3 separate regions of the Homo sapiens genome follow, and all the other regions are linked to region 3. The links come from fine-mapping of genetic effects on gene expression. A gene starts in region 3. Each other region holds a variant in brackets. All regions are shown on one strand. Distances are between the middles of the regions.

Region 1 (5,747 bases), 37 kb after region 3:
AAGATTGTTCGCTCTCTCCAGAACTGGCTTTATATCTTTGCCGATAATTAGTTGTCCACATATGTGTGGGTTTATTTCTAGATTCCCGATTCTGTTCCATTGATCCGTTTATCCGTTTTTGTGCCAACACCACCACACTGTCTTGATAACTGTAATTTTTTAATGAGTTCTGAAAACAAGTAGTGTTAGTTCCCCGTCCTTGTCTTTTTTTTCTAAGTTGTTTTAGCTATTCTAGGTCCTTTGCATTTACATATGAATTTTAGAATCAGCTTGTTCATTTCTATTTTTAAAATCCTGTTGAAATTCTGATTGGGATGGCATTGAATCTATAATTTGGAGAGAATATATGTGTTATTAATGTTGAGTCTCCCATCCCACGAAAACGTTATCTCTTTCCAAAATCTGTAGGTCTTCTTTAATTTCTCTGAGCAATATTTTGTAGTTTTCAGTGTCCTATGTTTCATTTCTCATCACATTTATCCCTCTTTCATACATTTTATGCTATTATAAATGGTATTTTTAAATGTTCAATTTCTGAATGCTTGTTGCTAGTGTATAGAAATACAATAGATTTTTGTATATTTATCTTGTATCCTTCAACCTTGCTAAACTTGTTAGTTCTCATAGTTGTTTTTAATAGAATCTTTTCTATTTTCTACATAGACAATCATGTTGTCTGTTAATGAAGATAGTTTTAGCTCTTCCTTTCCAATCTAGATGCTTTTTATTTCTTTATATTGCCTTATTGCACTGACTAGAATCTCTAGCTCAACGTTGACTAGGAGTGGTTAGAACAGACATTCTTGTCCTGTTCTTGATCTTGGGGGAAAGCAGTCAGTCATTCTCCCTTGAATATGACATTTGCTGTACATGTTTCATAGATCCTCTATATCAAATTGGGGAAATTACCCTCTATTCTTAGTTTTCTGAGAGTTTTATCAGGATGTTGCATTTTGCCAACATTTTTTGCATCTGTTGAATCATCTATGTCAAATTGGGGAAATTCCCCTCTATTCTTAGTTTTCTGAGAGTTTTATCAGGATGTTGCGTTTTGCCAACATTTTTTGCATCTGTTGAATCCTCTATATCAAATTGGGGAAATTCCCCTCTATTCTTAGTTTTCTGAGAATTTTATCAGGATGTTGCATTTTGCCAGCATTTTTTGCATCTATTGAAACAATTGTATGTTTTTTCTTTTTTAACCTGTAAATATGGTGAATGACATTGATTGATGGTCAAATGTTAAACCAACCTTGCATTACTGGTAAAAACCCCTGTTGATCATGGTGTATTACTCTTTTTATATATTGTTGGATGTACATCTTTTTATGGACCTACATTTTGATTTCCCTTGGGTAAATTCCTAGGAGTAGGGTGGCTGTGTCATATGGGAGATATATCTTTATGTAAGAAACTGCCAAGCTGTTTTCAGAGTGGGTTGGACTAATTTGTATTTCTACCAGCAGTGGATGAGAGTTCCACTTGCTCTGTATCCTCATCAACACTTGGTAGTATCCATCTTTTAAATTTTAGTCATCCTAGTAAAACTCCACAAAAGCTTTTTAAAAATGATACAAACTTCCTGCCCTACCAGTGACAACCTTGTGTTGCTCCTGTCTCCAACACACTTGATTTAACTGGCTCTCGTCTTTTGATTCTTATGTAAAAGGTCATGTCTCCATATTGTGTGTGTGTGTGTGTGTGTGTGTGTGTGTGTGTGTGTGTGTGACAGGGTCTGTGACACCCAGGCTGGAGTGTAGTCGTGCCATCTCGGCTCACTGCAACCTCCACCCCTGGGCTCAAGTGATCCTCCTACCTCAATCTCCCAAAATGCTGGGATGACAGGTGTGAGCACCCACACCTGGCTGGTGTCTCTATTTCTTCACATTTAACTCCCTGAGCCCTCCCCAGTAGGCTGTTCATGTTGTGTCTGTGGGTATGCACGCACGTATGTATATGCTCACACACAAATACCAAGGAGGATGTGACAGGTTTGCATCAGACAACCTCTAACTTTACACCGGGGGACCTTGTGCCAGTTGCAAGAGGTCGGGACAGGTTGTAACCACTCCTTAGCCTCACTTGTAGCTGGTTTGTCAAAGATAGGCTATATTAGTAATGGCTGTAAGCTATCAGTCCTACTTACAAGCCCTTCTTGGGCTCACTCATCTGTGCCACCCCCATTTTTCCCTCTAAGCAGACATTGGCAAACTTTTTTTTTTTTTTTTGAGACAAAGTCTCACTCTGTTGCCCAGGCTGGAGTGCAGTGGCACGATCTCGGCTCACTGCAATCTCCATCTCCCGGGTTCCAGTGATTCTCTTGCCTCAGCCTCCCAAGTAGCTGGGATTACAGGCACCCGCCACCACGCCCGGCTAATTTTTGTATTTTTAGTAGAGACGGGGTTTCACTATGTTGGCCAGACTGTTCTCACACTCCTGACCTCAGGTGATCCACCCGCCTTGGCCTCCCGAAGTGCTGGGATTACAGGTGTGAGCCACCACACGCAGCCAGCAAACTTTTTCTTAAAAAGACAGATAGTAGGCTGGGCGTGGTGGCTCACGCCTGTAATCCCAGCACTTTGTGAGGCCGAGGCAGGCGGATCACCTAAGTCGGGAGTTTGAGACCAGCCTGGCCAACATGGTGAAACCACATCTCTACTAAAAATAGAAAATTAGCCGGGCATGGTGGTGCACGCCTGTAATCCCAGCTACTCGGGAGGCTGAAGCAGGAGAATCACTTGAACCTGGGAGGCAGAAGTTGCAGTGAGCTGAGATCACACCATTGCACTCCAGCCTGGACAACAAGAGCGAAACTCTGTCTCAAAAAACAACAAAAATGACAGTAAATATTTTAGGGCC[G/C]TAGAGTCTCCATCACAGCTAGTCAACGACCGCTCACAAAAGCAGCTATAGACAGTTCATAAATGGGCATGGCTGAGTTCCAGTAACACCTTATTTACAACAACAGGCAGCTGGTCCACGCCGTAGAGTCCAGCTCCTGCTACGGGTTCCATGAACAGGCCTCCTTCCAGGCCCAGCTCCCTGGGTTCTGTGAACAGGCCTCCTTCCAGGCCAGGAGAGGGACAGCCTGTCCCGGAGCACCCGAGTGAGGTTGGAGGTGGGCACAGGCATTCTGGACCCTGGGCTGGGCGGGAGCTGTTGGTGGCCGTTGCTCAGCCTCCCTCAGAATTTCTAGATGGGCAGATAAAGGCCATGAGACAGGAAGCCTGGGTCCGTGGTCCACACTGTCGGAGCAGAACCAACAGCATTGCCATGCGGTGAGAAGGAGGGCCCCCCACTGCACCCCGAGCGGTGATGTTCCCAGCTGGGCTCATGTTGCCTGCTACCCCTGTAAGTGGCTCGTGCTGTCCCATCCGACAGATGAGGAGACCGAGGCCCGGAGACTGGCGTGCCTTCTGGGCGCCCCTCGCACAGCCACGTACCGAGCATTTGCGGCATCTTTCACCAAGGCTTCGGGAGAAGACGGAGCCCGGGGGGAGTCAGGTCTCTCTCTTCTGGGACTTCAGTGTGGTTCTTCCCCACCTGTTCTCCAGGGGTGTGTGTAACTAAATACTTTGCAGGCCAGACACGGCGTCACACATCTGTAATCCCAACACTTTAGGAGGCCAAGACAGGAGGATCGCTTGAGCCCAGGAGTTCAAGCCCAAGCTGGGCAACATAGAGAGACTTCATCTCTACCAAAAATTTTAAAAATTAGCTGGGTATGCTGGTGCATGCCTGCGGTCCCAGCTACTTGGAAGGCTGAGGCAGGAGGATCGCTTGAGCCCAGGCGTTGGAGGCTGCAGTGAGCTGTGAGCTGTGATTGCACCACTGCACTCCACCTTGGGCAACAGGGCAAGACCCTGTCTCAAAACAAAACAATACAATACAAGACAAAAAAAACCCCGCAAAACCAAACAACGGCTGATCCTGTAACCGCATTCTTTCTCCCAAAAGCCGCCCTACTCAGCACAGGCAAAACTCCTGGTACCCGAGACAGGGTCACTTGGGCAAATGTTTGACTGACTGAGGGGTGAGGAGAAAGCCTGTGGTCTCTCTCGAAGACAGGGGCTCTGCTGAAGTAGGGCTGTTAGTGGCCCCTTCATTCATGACTCCCGTGGAGACCTGCTCCGGACTGAGCTCTGTGCCAGATCCGGGGGTGCTGGGTCTGGGGTCCTCAAGAAGCCCACGTTAATGGGGAGACAGGCTTCATTAATCAGGGAGCCTAACAGCTGTGACAGAAAACCCCCAAATCCCAGAGGCCGGGCATGACCCCCAAATCCCAGATGTGCAGCGTGACCCCCAAATCCCAGAGGCCGGGCATGACCCCCAAATCCCAGAGGTCGGGCATGACCCCCAAATCCCAGAGGCCGGGCATGACCCCCAAATCCCAGAGGCCGGGCATGACCCCCAAATCCCAGAGGTCGGGCGTGACCCCCAAATCCCAGAGGCCGGGCGTGACCCCCAAATCCCAGAGGTCGGGCGTGACCCCCAAATCCCAGAGGCCGGGCGTGACCCCCAAATCCCAGAGGTCGGGCATGACCTCCAAATCCCAGAGGCCGGGCATGACCTCCAAATCCCAGAGGCCGGGCATGACCCCCAAATCCCAAAGGTCGGGCGTGACCCCCAAATCCCAGAGGCCGGGCGTGACCCCCAAATCCCAGAGGTCGGGCGTGACCCCCAAATCCCAGAGGCCCGGCGTGACCCCCAAATCCCAGATGTGCAGCGTGACCCCCAAATCCCAGAGGCCAGGCATGACCCCCAAATCCCAGAGGCCAGGCATGACCCCCAAATCCCAGAGGTCGGGCGTGACCCCCAAATCCCAGAGGCCGGGCGTGACCCCCAAATCCCAGAGGTCGGGCGTGACCCCCAAATCCCAGAGGTCGGGCGTGACCCCCAAATCCCAGAGGCCGGGCGTGACCCCCAAATCCCAGAGGTCGGGCGTGACCCCCAAATCCGAGGCCCGGCGTGACCCCCAAATCCCAGAGGCCGGGCATGACCCCCAAATCCGAGGTTCAGCCTGCTGGTTCTCACGCACCATCCCCGGCCGGGGGCTCACTTGGGTGCCTCTCCTCCTGGCAGTGACTCAGAGCCCAGGCCCAGCCCCAGCCCCACTGGGCCTCCGCCGCCTGGCATGGGAGTCCCCCACCAGCCAGGGGTGGGCCCCGATCAGCGTTGGGAGGGGGGCTATCCTCCGCCAGGCCTGAAGGGTGGGGTCCTCTCCACTCATGATTCCCCAAACAGGCTTGGGTCCACAGCCGCACCTGCTTGTGGGGAAGCGCCTCGATTTCCACCAGCCTCACCCAGGAGAGCCTCCACTTAAAAATAAAAGCAGTTCAGAGATGACTCATCTCCCCCAGAGAGACTGTTCTCTCTAGGGTGCCTTTCAGCCATTCCACTCCCTTGACTTATTGTGAAGGGTCGTTGGGAGCCAGAAGAAAACAGGAGAGTCACACAGCAGCCCTCTTAGCCATCGCCCCAGGGCGGGGCTGGACGCTCCCCACATTTTGCCGTTTCAGAATGAGACATTTCACACGTGCAGCAGCAGAAAGACTGCGCTGTGGCACCCACACCCTGGGCAGTGGCTCACGCCTGTCATCCCAGCACTTTGGGAGGCCGAGCAGGTGGATTACTTGAGGTCAAGAGTTCGAGGCCAGCCTGGCCAACATGATGAAACCCCATCTCCACTAAAAATACAAAAGTTAGCCGGGCATGGTGGTGCGTGCCTCGCTACTCGGGAGGCTAAGGCA
Region 2 (5,747 bases), 27 kb after region 3:
TGCAAGACCTGGGTGGGGGTCTCCATCCTGGGAGGGGGTTTGGGGGAGGGAGGGGTGCCTCCGTACATCCTTGGAGCTGCCTGCCAAATCGCAACAGAGGACAGGGACCGGGCGCGGTGGCTCACGCCTGTCATCCCAGTGCTTTGGGAGGCCGAGGCCGGAGGATCGCTTGAGGCCAGGAGTTGGAAGCTGCAGTGAGTCGTGATCACACTCCAGCCTAGGCCAGAGTGAGACCCTGTCTCAAAAAAAAGAAAAACACACATATTGTCCTCTTTGAGTCTCAGGCCATCTGATGCCCCGGAAGGACTGGGGTGTCTGAGCTCTTTTGTTCTTTTTTATTTTAAGGTCTCGCTCTGTCACCCAGGCTGGAGTGCAGTGGCACAATCTCAACTCACTGCAGCCTCTGCCTCCAGGGCTCAAGCAATCCTCCCACCTCAGCCTCCTGAGTAGCTGGGACTACAGGTCCATGCCACCATGCCCAGCTAATTTTTTTTTTTAAGACAGTCTCTCGATGTCACCCAGGCTACAGTGCAGTGGCACGATCTTTGCTCACTGCAACCTCCAACTCCCAGTTTCAGGAATTTGGCCGGCATGGGTGAGGGTGGGAAGAAGGCTGCTGAGTGTGGGCGGGGGCTGGGCAGACTCCCTTCACTCCCCAGGGCAGCGGCCCAACTAGGTTGGATATTTTTTTTTTTTTTTGAGACGGAGTCTCGCTCTGTCGCCCAGGCTGGACTGCAGTGGTGCGATCTCGGCTCACTGCAAGCTCCCCCTCCCAGGTTCACACCATTCTCCTGCCTCAGCCTCCCGAGTAGCTGGGACTACAGGCACCCGCCACCACGCCCGGCTAATTTTTGTATTTTTAGTAGAGATGGGGTTTCACCATGTTAGCCAGGATGGTCTCCGTCTCCTGACCTCGTGATCCACCCGCCTCGGCCTCCCAAAGTGCTGGGATTCCAGGCATGAGCCACCGCGCCTGGCCGGATTTTTTAAAAATAATAATTTACCTTCTCATCGTTTCGAGTGCACAGTTCCAGGGCCTTGAGCACGTTCACTCACCGTGCCACCGCCACCACCATCATCTCCAGAACCTCCTCATCTTCCCAAACTGAAGCTCTGTCCCCATTCAACAAGGGCTCCAGATTTCCTCTCCCCAGTCCGGGGCACCCACCCTTCTACTTTCTGTTCTTTTCTTGTTTTTTTTTTTTTTTTTTTTTTGAGACGGAGTCTTGCTCTGTTCCCAAGGCTGGAATGCAGTGGCGCCATTTCAGCTCACTGCAACCTCTGCCTCCTGGGTTCAAACGATTCTCCTGCCTCAGTCCCCTGAGTAGCTGGGATTACAGGCGCCTGCCACCACGCCCGGCTAATTTTTGTATTTTTGGTAGAGACAGGGTTTCGCCATGTTGGCCAGGCTGGTCTTGAACTCCTGACCTCAGGTCATCCTCCCAACTTGGCCTCCCAAATGGCTGGGATTACAGGCATGAGCCACCGTGCCTGGCCTCAACTTTCTGTCTCTATGAATCTTATGACTCCAGGGACCTTGTAGAAGTGAAACCATGCGGTATTCATTTTTTTTTTTTTTTTTTTTTGAGGCAGAGTCTCATTCTGTCGCCCAGGCTGGAGTGCAGTGGCACCTTCTCAGCTCACTGCAAGCTCCGCCTCCCAGGCTCATGCCATTCTCCTGCCTCAGCCTCCCGAGTAGCTGGGACTACAGGTGCACGCTGCCATGCCCGGCTAAGTTTTCTGTATTTTTAGTAGAGATGGGGTTTCACCACGTTAGCCAGGACGGTCTCGATCTCCTGACCTTGTGATCCGCCTGCCTCGGCCTCCCGAAGTGCTGGGATTACAGGTGTGAGCCACCATGCCCGGCTGGTATTCATTCTTTTGTGACTGGCCAGTTTCACTCAGTCTAACGTCTCCAGGTTCACAGATGCTGTGGCGAGTGCTGGGATTTCCCTGCATGTGAAGACAGGATCATACCCTGTGTGGATGAACCACATTGCGTGTGCCCGTTTGTCTGCAGGCGGACACTGGGCTGCTCCCACCTCTGGGCCATTGTGAATCGTGCTGTGTGAGCACGAGGGTGCAGATGTCTCTCTGAGACCCTGCTTCAGGTTGTTTGGGTCTGTACCCAGGACTGGAGTTGCTGGGTCCCATGGCGATTCTGTGCTTACCTGGTTGAAGAACTGCTAGACAGGTTTCCCCTACCTGGTTTTGCACTCAAGCCACAGGCCAGCAGGTCACACGTGCCCGCTTCCTGCCTGCCTGCCCTGTGGCCGGGTGTGGAGGGCTGGTGTGGGCGATGAGCTGGCACTCAGGGCTGGGAGGAGCTGGAGGCCTTTCCCTCTGTCCTGCGCCTGGTGCCCAGGCCCTGGCCAGGCTCCCCCCAACTTCAGCCTAGACTGGGCCCCCTCTCCAAATGCACCGGAGCTGTGGTGTGGGCCAAGGTTACTGCTTTGTGGACTCCTTGGGCCGCTGCACCGGCCGTGACCGCAGCCAGCTTCCCCGACGCACAGATGCTGTGAGCTAGACCTCAGCTCTGGACATATCTCAGGTTAGGTGTGGCACTGCCCCTGCCCCCAGGCCCTGTGCTCCTAGGCCACTGCCGTTTTAGACTCAGAGGCATTTGCCAAGCCTTGCTCTGTGGCAGTACCTGGCAGCCAGCCGCATCCCCCAACTGCTTCTCCCGTCACCCGTCAGGTGGCTGCATGGCCCCATTTTGCAAATGAAAGAATGAGGAAACAGGAAGGGACTTGGTGGGGTCCAAGGTGGCTGAGGCGGCACGTGGCCGTGTGGCCAGGAGGTATGTGCTCATGTGCCCGGGGGAGGCAGAGGCCCACAAGGGCTGAACTCCAGTGGTGCCCTACCCTGGACTCCGGCGGGCAAGGCGCCTTCCCCCGCTCCGTACACATGTACTGAGTGCCTTGCCCTGTGCAGTCACTGGGGCTCAGGGAGACCGGACCAGACCAGCCCTTCACTCTCAGCATCTGCTGTTCCTTGGTGGGGAGACAAAGACAGACAGATGGTGATGGCACTTGGGGACAAGGAGGGCCGAGGGTAGAGTAAGAATTGTGAGTGAGGGCCGGGCATGGTGGCTCACGCCTGTAATCCCAGCACTTTGGGAGGCTGAGGCGGGAGGATCACGAGGTCAGGAGATCAGGACCATCCTGGCCAACATGGTGAAACCCCATCTCTACTAAAAATACAAAAATTAGTTGGGTGTGGTGGCGCACGCCTGAAATCCCAGCTACTCGGGAGGTTGAGGTGGGAGAATCGCTCGAACCTGGTAGGCAGAGGTTGCAGAGAGCCGAGATCATGCCACTGCACTCCAGCCTGGGCGACAGAGTGATATTCTGTCTCAAGGGAAAAAAAAGGACATAGAATCTTGGATGCCCCGTAAAC[G/A]CGTTTTCAGGAAGGAGTACTGGGCACCTATGGGCTGGGAGGTGGGTCAGGGAGGAGCAAACTGACCCCAAGTCACTGTCCAGGTGGTGGTGGTGACAGCTTAGCAGGTGAATGAGAGGCCAGAGGGGGTCGTGGCACCTGGAGATGCATTTGGAGAAGTTCTGCTAAGACCGGGGCAGAGACCTGCAGTGGGAGCTCGGCCTGGCATGCAGGGGAAGGCTTTGGAAGTGACTGTTTTCCTCATGGAGGACGAGGCCAGGCCATGGGCCGGCGGGGAGGGAAGCCGAAACTCGGGCCACCATGGAGCGCTTCTGCAGGGCGTGTTCCATTCAGAAGCTCAGGCCTCGGTGGGTACAGAGGTGGGCTCCGTACTGAATGATGGAGGGAGGGGTGAGGGGCAGAGGGCATTGCACTGATGGACCTGGGATCCCACCCGGGCAAGGGGGCAGGGCAGACATGGGGTGAGGAGGGAGGGACAGACATGGCTGGGTCAGGTCCTGCAGATTCAGGATGGGGGCTGGGGCTCGGGGGTTGTGAGCGGGAAAGGCCCAGCTGGAATAGAGTGGGTTCAGGGCAGGCCGTGGGGTGGCCAAGGTGTGGGGTGAGGAGCAGGTCCCTGGCAGTGCTGGGTCCTCAGTGGAGGAGGGAGACGGCCCCTCCGGAAGAGGGAGTGGGGTAAAGGGGCTGGTGGTGTCGGGGGTGGGGGCAGCCGTGCACCTCGCAGGTCAAAGGAGAAGTGAGGAGGCCAGTGTGCCCAGAGCCAGGGCGGGGAGACGGGGTCAGAGGTGGCTGTGGGGCCACGCAGGGCTGGGGGACGCTGTGAGGGCTGCGCTGTGACTCTGGGTGGGATGGGAACCATGGGAATTCTGTGAGCCGAGGAGTGTCCCAGCCCACGACGCGTCACAGGGTCCAGGGCAGGTAGGGCCAGCGCGGGAGCGGGAGGTGGGTGGGACGCTGCTGCAGTGACCGAGGCCGGGTGGCGGTGGCTAGGCCTAGGGCGGGGCGTGAGTGTGGGGAGGGTCAAAGCCTGGATCGTCTTGAAATATTTGCTGGTCAACGGGATGTCGGGGTGTGGTGGGCAGAGTAGAAATGAGGACACCCAGGCCTTTAGCCAGCACCTCACTCGCTGAGATGGGGACGTGGGAGCAGTGTCCAGGGAGACGGGAGGGACCTGCGATGTGAGGCTCTGTGAGAAGCCACGGTGGCCGCCAAGGGGACAGCAGCCACACGGGCAGCTCTGGAGGAAAGAGGCCCGAGCTAGAGACAGGGGTTGCCAGTGTGTGAATGTCTCTCTCTCTCCTTTTTTAAAAAATCAAGGTCAGGCGCGGTGGCTCACACCTGTGATCCCAGCACTTTGGGAGGCTGAGGTGGGAGGATCGCTTGAGCCCAGGAGTTCAAGGTCAGCCTGGCCAACATGGTGAGACCCCCATCTCTAAAAAAAAAAAAAAAAAAAAAAAACCAAAAAATCAGCCAGATGTGGTGGTGCACACCTGTGGTCCCAGCTACTCAGGAAGCTGAGGTGGGAGGATTACCTGAGCCCAGGAGGCCGAGGCTGCAGTGAACCATGATCGCACCACTGCACTCCAGCCTGAGTGACAGAGACCCTCTCTCAAAAAAACAAAAAATGAAAAAAAACAAAACCCCAAATCGAGGTGCAATTCATATGAAAAATTAACCTTTTATAGAAAATTTTTTCATAAGGATGGAGTCGCGGTGTCTCACTATGTTGCCCAGGCTGGTCTCGAACTCCTGGGCTCCACCCGTTCACCTTGGCCTCTCCAGGTGCTGAGATTGCAGGCGTGAGCCGCCCCGCCCGGCCTCAGGTTAATCATTTCAAAGTGAAAATTCAGTGGCATTTAGAACGTTCTCCATGCTGTTCAACCACCACCTCTATCGAGTTCCAAAAATAGGGTTTGACAGCCGAGAGACCAGATGGGCCGCAGAGGAGTCGGCCCTGTGCGAGGGCCCTGAAGAGCCTGGAGGGGCGCGGGGTGGGGGCCCCAGAGAGTGGGCTCCGGGACAGGGTGGGTCCAGGGAGGACTGGGGATGGCCTTCACCGTGGGGTTCCCGCCATGGGGCTGGAGCACCAGGAGGGAGAGAGGGTGGGAGGGCAGGGGCAGGGCAGAGCCTGGGGGGGTCCTTGGGGGATTCTGAAAATGGACTGTGTCCGGGTGCTGCTGGGAGGGATCCAGGAGAGGGGCACGTGTCCCTGAACCGGGTAGGGGCCAGCGGATCTGGGTCCTGGGAGGGCCTGTTCCTAGGGCCAAAGGGCCCCATCCTCACAATGGAATGGGACCAGGGCCGCCCGTGAGCGTGAGGGGGTGGGGGCCTGGGGCCTGGGCAGAGAG
Region 3 (5,747 bases):
GTGGTCACAGTGGAGGCTGGATCCCAAACAGTGATGCAGCTTCCTCTTGGTTCCCCAGGACACCTGTGCCGTGGACCCAGCCGCCATGCTGTGGGGAAGCCCAGCAGCTCGTAGAGGGGCCCATGTGGAGGGGAACCCAGGCCCACGGAACCGTGGCCAGGCTTCCACATGACACTGAGCCCACCTGCCTGCCAGCCACGTGTGCCATCGTGAGTGGATCCTCCAGTCCGAAGTGGAGCTAACCCGGCCCAGGCCTCGTGGAATGTCTCCACCAAGCCCTGCCCAAGTGCAAGTGCAAGTTCACGGGTAATGACTGCTGCTAAGCTTGGGGTGCTTTGTTATGCAGCGGCAGATAACGCGAACACGGCCACGTAAGCTTCAGCAAGGGCTGTGACCCCTTGAGTCTGTTTCTCTGTGTCAGATGAGGATAATAAGACCTACTTAGCTGGATTCATTCATCTTCGAGCTATAAACGGAGCATGTCCAGCGTGCCAGGCACTGCTCCAGGCTCTGGGGATCCGGGTGGAAATACCTGCAATACCTTGATTGCTGGGGCTCAAACAAGGTTCGTTCCCTCCTCTGAGCTTTTCCTTTTTTCTTGTAGACAAGGTCTCACTTTTTTGCCCAGGCTGCAGTGCAGTGGTGCGATCTTGGTTCACTGCAGCCTCGACCTCCCAGGGCTCAGACGATCCTCCCACCTCAGCCTCTGGGGTAGCTGGGACCACAGGTGTGCGCCCCTACACCTGGCTAATTTTTGTATTTTTTATAGACGTAGGGTTTCAGCATGTTGCCAAGGCTGGTCTCAAACTCCTGGGCTCAAGTGGTCCGCCCACCTCGGCTTCCCAGAGTGTTGGGATTACAGGTGTGAGCCACCGCCCCCAGCCCCTTCCCCACTTTTTACACCGGTGAACTGCTCATAAAAATTCTTTCCTCTTCTCTCCCAGCTAAAGATCTCATATAAAGCAATAATCATTTGCCAGGTGACAGTCAATTAAAAGCCGGTTGTCACCTCCAGGCCACAGGTCCCTCGGGGCTCCCAGACAGAGAGGCTTAGGGCAGCCCCAACGGAGGGGCTGTCCTTCCACTGCTAAGCGGCTGCTGCAGTCAAGTGAGTGAGCGCTTCTTTGCTGGGTAATAAAAGCTCCCATTGTTCACAGCCCTGGAAACGTATTAATGAGTAACCCAGTGTGTGGGCCCCTGGTTCTAACCGGGTAAAAAGAGTTGTTTATATGACAGGAACAAGCTGCAATTTTCCTTTTGTAGTTTTCAGTGGGCCCAGAGCCACAGGCCAATCAAGGCCCTGACAACTAGATTTCTGCAGCCCTGGGCCCTCCTTGGGGCCTTGGCCTGAGGTCCCCACTGCCCTGCGGTTCAGAAACATTCAGTGCCAGACTCGCGGCTCAGCTCTGGGCACACAGAGCAGAGTCCGACCTTGGGCGCAGGAATCTAATGGTGTGCGTTGCAGAGGGGCGGGCTCACCAGGGCCCAGCAAGGGGGAGAGCTGGAAGCCTCATGGGGAGGGGACGCCTGGGCCAGGCTTGAAGAAGGGCAGGCCCCGGGGTGGGGGCTGTTGGGCCGCCTTGACCAAGCCCTTGTCTGCAAACAACCCCTGGGAAGTTGCAGGAACTGGCTCCTAAGCAACAGTGGGTTCAGGTGTCACCAGGGTCCAGAGCGGGGGGCCAGGCAGCGAACTCGGTGTTGCTGGGGACCCACTGTGCTTACCACGAAGGCCTGGCCAGTGATTGTGAAATGGGTGGGATGGATGAGTGAGTGGAGGCTGGAGCTTGGGCCGCCCATGGTGCTCTAAACGGGCCAGTGTTCGACTTCCTCATGGCCAGGGCATGTGGGTACAGGTTCAGGGCTGGGAGAGACTCCGCGGGTGGACGCTGGGGTCTTCACTGAGCCCTTTCCCACGACTGCTGTTGCCATGACAACATCGACACGCAAAGGCCGGGCCTTACCGCTTACAGTACACTTTCATTCTGCCCTAGGTTGAGCTGTAACTACCCTCCACCCCCATTCGTATGGTGAAGCCACTAGGACCTTAGGATGTGACCTTTGCTTTGGAAATAGGTGCCAGGTGCGGCGGCTCACGCCTGTCATCCCAGCCCTTTGGGAGGCTGAAGTGGGCGGATCACTTAAGGTCAGGAGTTCGAGACCAGCCTGGGCAACATGGTGAAACCCCGTCTCTACGAAAAGTACAAAAAATTAGCCGGGTGTGGTGGCGCATGCCTGTAATCCCAGCTACTCTGGAGGCTGAGGCAGGAGAATCTCTTGAACTCGGGAAGTGGAGGTTGCGGTGAGCCGAGATCGTACCACTGCACGCCCGTCTAGGTTACAAAGTGAGACTCTGTGTTGAAAAAAAATATATTAGCTTAGCTGGGTGTGTTGGTGGCGCCTGTAATCCCAGCTACTCGGGAGGCTGAGGCAGGAGAATTGCTTTAACCTGGGAGGTGGAGGTTGCAATGAGCCAGGATCGAGCCACTGTACTCCAGCCTGGGCAACAAGAGAGAGACTCCGTTTTAAAAAACAAAACAAAGAAATAGGGTTGCTGCTGATATAATTAGTTAAGATGAAGTTATTGGGACGGCCCCTAACCCAACATGACTGCTATCCTTATAAAAAGAGGAAATTTAGGTTGGGCATGGTGGCTCATGCCTATAATCCCGGCATTTAGGGAGGCTGAGGCAGGAGGATTGCCTGAGCCCAGGAGTTAAGGACCAGCCTGGGCAACATAGGGAGACTCCATCTCTACGAAAAATAGAAAAATTAGCCTGGTGTGGTGGTGTGTGCCTGTGGTCGCAGCTACTCAGGAGGCTGGGGTGAGAGGATCGCTGAGCCCAGGAGGTCGAGGCTGCAGTGAGTCGTGATCATGCCACTGCACTCTAGTCTGGGCAACAGAGCAATACCCTGTCTCAAATAAATAAATAAAAATAGTAAATTTGGACATGCGCAGGACACCATGGGAACGTAGGGGCCGAGACCAGGTGGTGCTTCTGCAAGCCAAGGAACCTCACAGGCTGGCGGCCCCCAGAAGCTGGGAGGCTGGGACTGTCCCCAGGGCCCCCACTCTGCCCACTGCTTGGACTCCAGACCCCAGGACTGAGAGCACATTCCTGTTGTTGAAGCTGCTCGGTGGTGTCACCTGGCTCCAGCAGCCGCAGGCAGCGAGTCCACAGGCTCTCCTGTCCCTCCTGTGCCGCCTTCCTCCCCGGATGGGCCCCGTGATGAGGTCTCTGTGCGATGGGGAAACCGAGGCCCCAGCAGACACCTGGGATGCAGAGACGCCGGCACCGCTATGTGTCCTCGGGCAATTCGCTGAACCTTTCTGGGCCTCGGTTTCTCACCAATTCCAAAAGCTGATTCTGCTACCGACTGCTGTGAGGGTCCCAGGGGACGGGAAAGCCCGGGCAGCGCCCACCGGGGCTCAGGAGCTTGCTGACTCCGAGGGGGTGGGGCCGGGCCTGGGCAAGGGGTGGGGCCGGGCCTGGGCAAGGGGCGGGGACGGGGCCTGCTCGACGTGCTCGGCGCTCCCGGGGTGCCTGCTCGGCGCTCCGCCGGCCGCCCTGCGTACGCTCGCAAGGCGCTCGCAGACTCCGGAGTCGCCAACATGTCGACCGCCATGAATTTCGGGACCAAGAGCTTCCAGCCGCGGCCCCCGGACAAGGGCAGCTTCCCGCTGGATCACTTAGGTGAGCGGCGGAAGGTCGGCGGGCAGGGGTCTGCGATGGGGGGTCTGGGTCGCGGCCCAGCGCGGAGCCCTATGGGGTGCCGGCATCTAGCGCGGTGCAGGCGGGGAAACTGAGGCACGGCGGCCCGCCCCTCCGCCCCACCCAGCCCTGGGTCACTGCTGCGGCATGGACCCTGCAGGTGGGAGCTGGCAGGACCGTGGCCCCCGTGACGAGGGCAGCGACACCGACTCCTTGCGTCAGGCTTCCGGGTCTCCGGCTCCGCCCTGACTCACCCGGCGGGCTGTCTGTGCCCCGGGTTTGCAGAGCGGGGCATTCGGCGGCCACGAAGCCCGCAGCTGCAGCCGAGGCTTAGACGGTGCCTAGCGATGTCTGCTGCAAAGCTCAAAAGTGCTGCTGATCTCCCAGTGCTTCTGGCCGTATTCCGGTGGGGTTGCCTCCGTGGACATGAAGGCTTCGAAAAAGGATCTGTGGGCCGGGCGCGGTGGCTCATGCCTGTGATCCCAGCCCTTTGGGAGGCCGAGGTGGGCGGATCATTTAAGATCAGGAGTTCGAGACCAGCCTGCCCAACATGGGGAAACCCCGTCTCTACTAAAAATACAAAAATTAGTTGGGTGTGATGTGGCTCGCCTGTAGTCCCAGCTACTCGGGAGGCTGAGGCAGGAGAATCGCTTGAACCGGGAGACGGAGGTTGCAGTGAGCCGAGATCGGGCCACTGCACTGCAGCTTGGGCGACAGAGTGAGACAACGTCTCAAAAAAAAAAAGAAAGAAAAGAAAAGAAAAACGATCTGTGAATTACTGTTTCTTTCCCAACATTTTATTGTGACATTTTCAAATAGCAAAAATGAAAGAATTTTTACCCTGAACTCTCCTGTGACCATCACCTACATTGCACCTTAACCTCGTACTGGGCTGACTTTACCTCGTTGTGGGTTTTTTCCATTGTTGTTTTCAGCATGTTTATGAAGGAAACAAGTTTGGGTTTGATTGTTTTTGTTTTGAGACACGGTCTCACTCTGTTGCTTAGGCTGGAGTGCAGTGGTGCAATCATAGCTCACTGAAGCCTCGGCCTCCTTCCTTTCTGGACTCAGGGGAGTCTCCCGTCTCATCCTCTAGAGTAGCTGGGACTATAGGTGTGCAGCGCCACACCCAGCTAATTTTTTTTTTTTTTTTTTTTTTAGAGATGGGGTTTCCCCATGTTGCCCAGGCTGGATTATTTATTTATTTATTTTTGAAATGGACTCTCACTGTGTCGCCCAGGCTGGAGTGCAGTGGTGTGATCTCGACTCACTGCAACCTCCTCCTCCCGGGTTCAAGCGATTCTCCTGTCTCAGCCTCTAGAGTAGCTGGGACTATAGGTGTGCAACACCACACCCAGCTAATTATTATTGTTTTTTTATTTTTTATTTTAAAGATGGAGTTTCCCCATGTTGACCAGGCTGGATCATTTATTTATTTATTTTTGAAATGGAGTCTCACTCTGTCACCCAGGCTGGAGTGCAGTGGTGTGATCTCGACTCGCTGCAACCTCCGCTTCCTGGGTTCAAGCAATTCTCCTGCCTCAGCCTCCCGAGTAGCTGGGACTACAGACACCCGCCACCATGCCCGGCTAATTTTTGTATTTTTAATAGAGATGGGGTTTCACCAAGTTGGCCGAGCTGGTCTTGAACTCCTGACCTCAGGTGATCCGCCCACCTCTGCCTCCCAAAGTGCTAGGATTACAGGCGTGAGCCACCGTGCCCAGCCTGGATTATTTTTAGGAGACAAGGTCTTGATCTGTTGCCCAGGCTGGAGTGCAGTGGTGTGATCAAGCTCACTGCAGCCTCGAAATCCTTTGCTCAAGCGATCTTCCTGCCTCAGCCTCCTGAGTAGCTGGAACCACAGACGTGCGCCACACCTAGCTAACTTTTAAGGTTTTTTTTGGTAGAGATGGGGGTCTCACTGTGTTGCCCAGGCTGGTCTCAAACTCCTGGGGTCAGGTGATCCTCTCAGAGTGCTGGGATTACAGGTGTGAACCACTGCGCCCGGCCTGAGGAAACAAGTTTTGAAAGGAAAAG

Evidence for each region. PIP is the estimated chance that this variant, and not a neighbour inherited with it, causes the effect.
Region 1: its variant is fine-mapped to the expression of COX19 in whole blood (TOPMed, PIP above 0.99).
Region 2: its variant is fine-mapped to the expression of COX19 in whole blood (TOPMed, PIP 0.98).

Annotation. Positions count from the first base shown.
Region 1 is chr7:936,312-942,058 of GRCh38, reverse strand. All of the region lies in intron 1 of ADAP1 (ArfGAP with dual PH domains 1), which reads left to right. Among named protein-coding and RNA genes, the nearest start is that of ADAP1, 15 kb to the left of the region's middle. RefSeq lists a silencer at 5,055-5,104. The variant G/C (reference allele first, on the strand shown) is at 2,860.
Region 2 is chr7:946,325-952,071 of GRCh38, reverse strand. The region is part of intron 1 of ADAP1 (ArfGAP with dual PH domains 1); the gene reads left to right. Among named protein-coding and RNA genes, the nearest start is that of ADAP1, 5.5 kb to the left of the region's middle. RefSeq lists enhancers at 1,872-2,516, 2,517-3,162, 5,648-5,747. The variant G/A (reference allele first, on the strand shown) is at 3,400.
Region 3 is chr7:973,373-979,119 of GRCh38, reverse strand. COX19 (cytochrome c oxidase assembly factor COX19) reads left to right here and starts at 3,571. Exons shown (of 3, transcript NM_001031617.3): 1 at 3,571-3,692. The coding sequence starts at 3,611. It also overlaps a transcript of CHLSN not described here. RefSeq lists enhancers at 2,585-3,465, 4,097-4,166, 3,466-4,348 and silencers at 3,397-3,676, 3,697-3,856.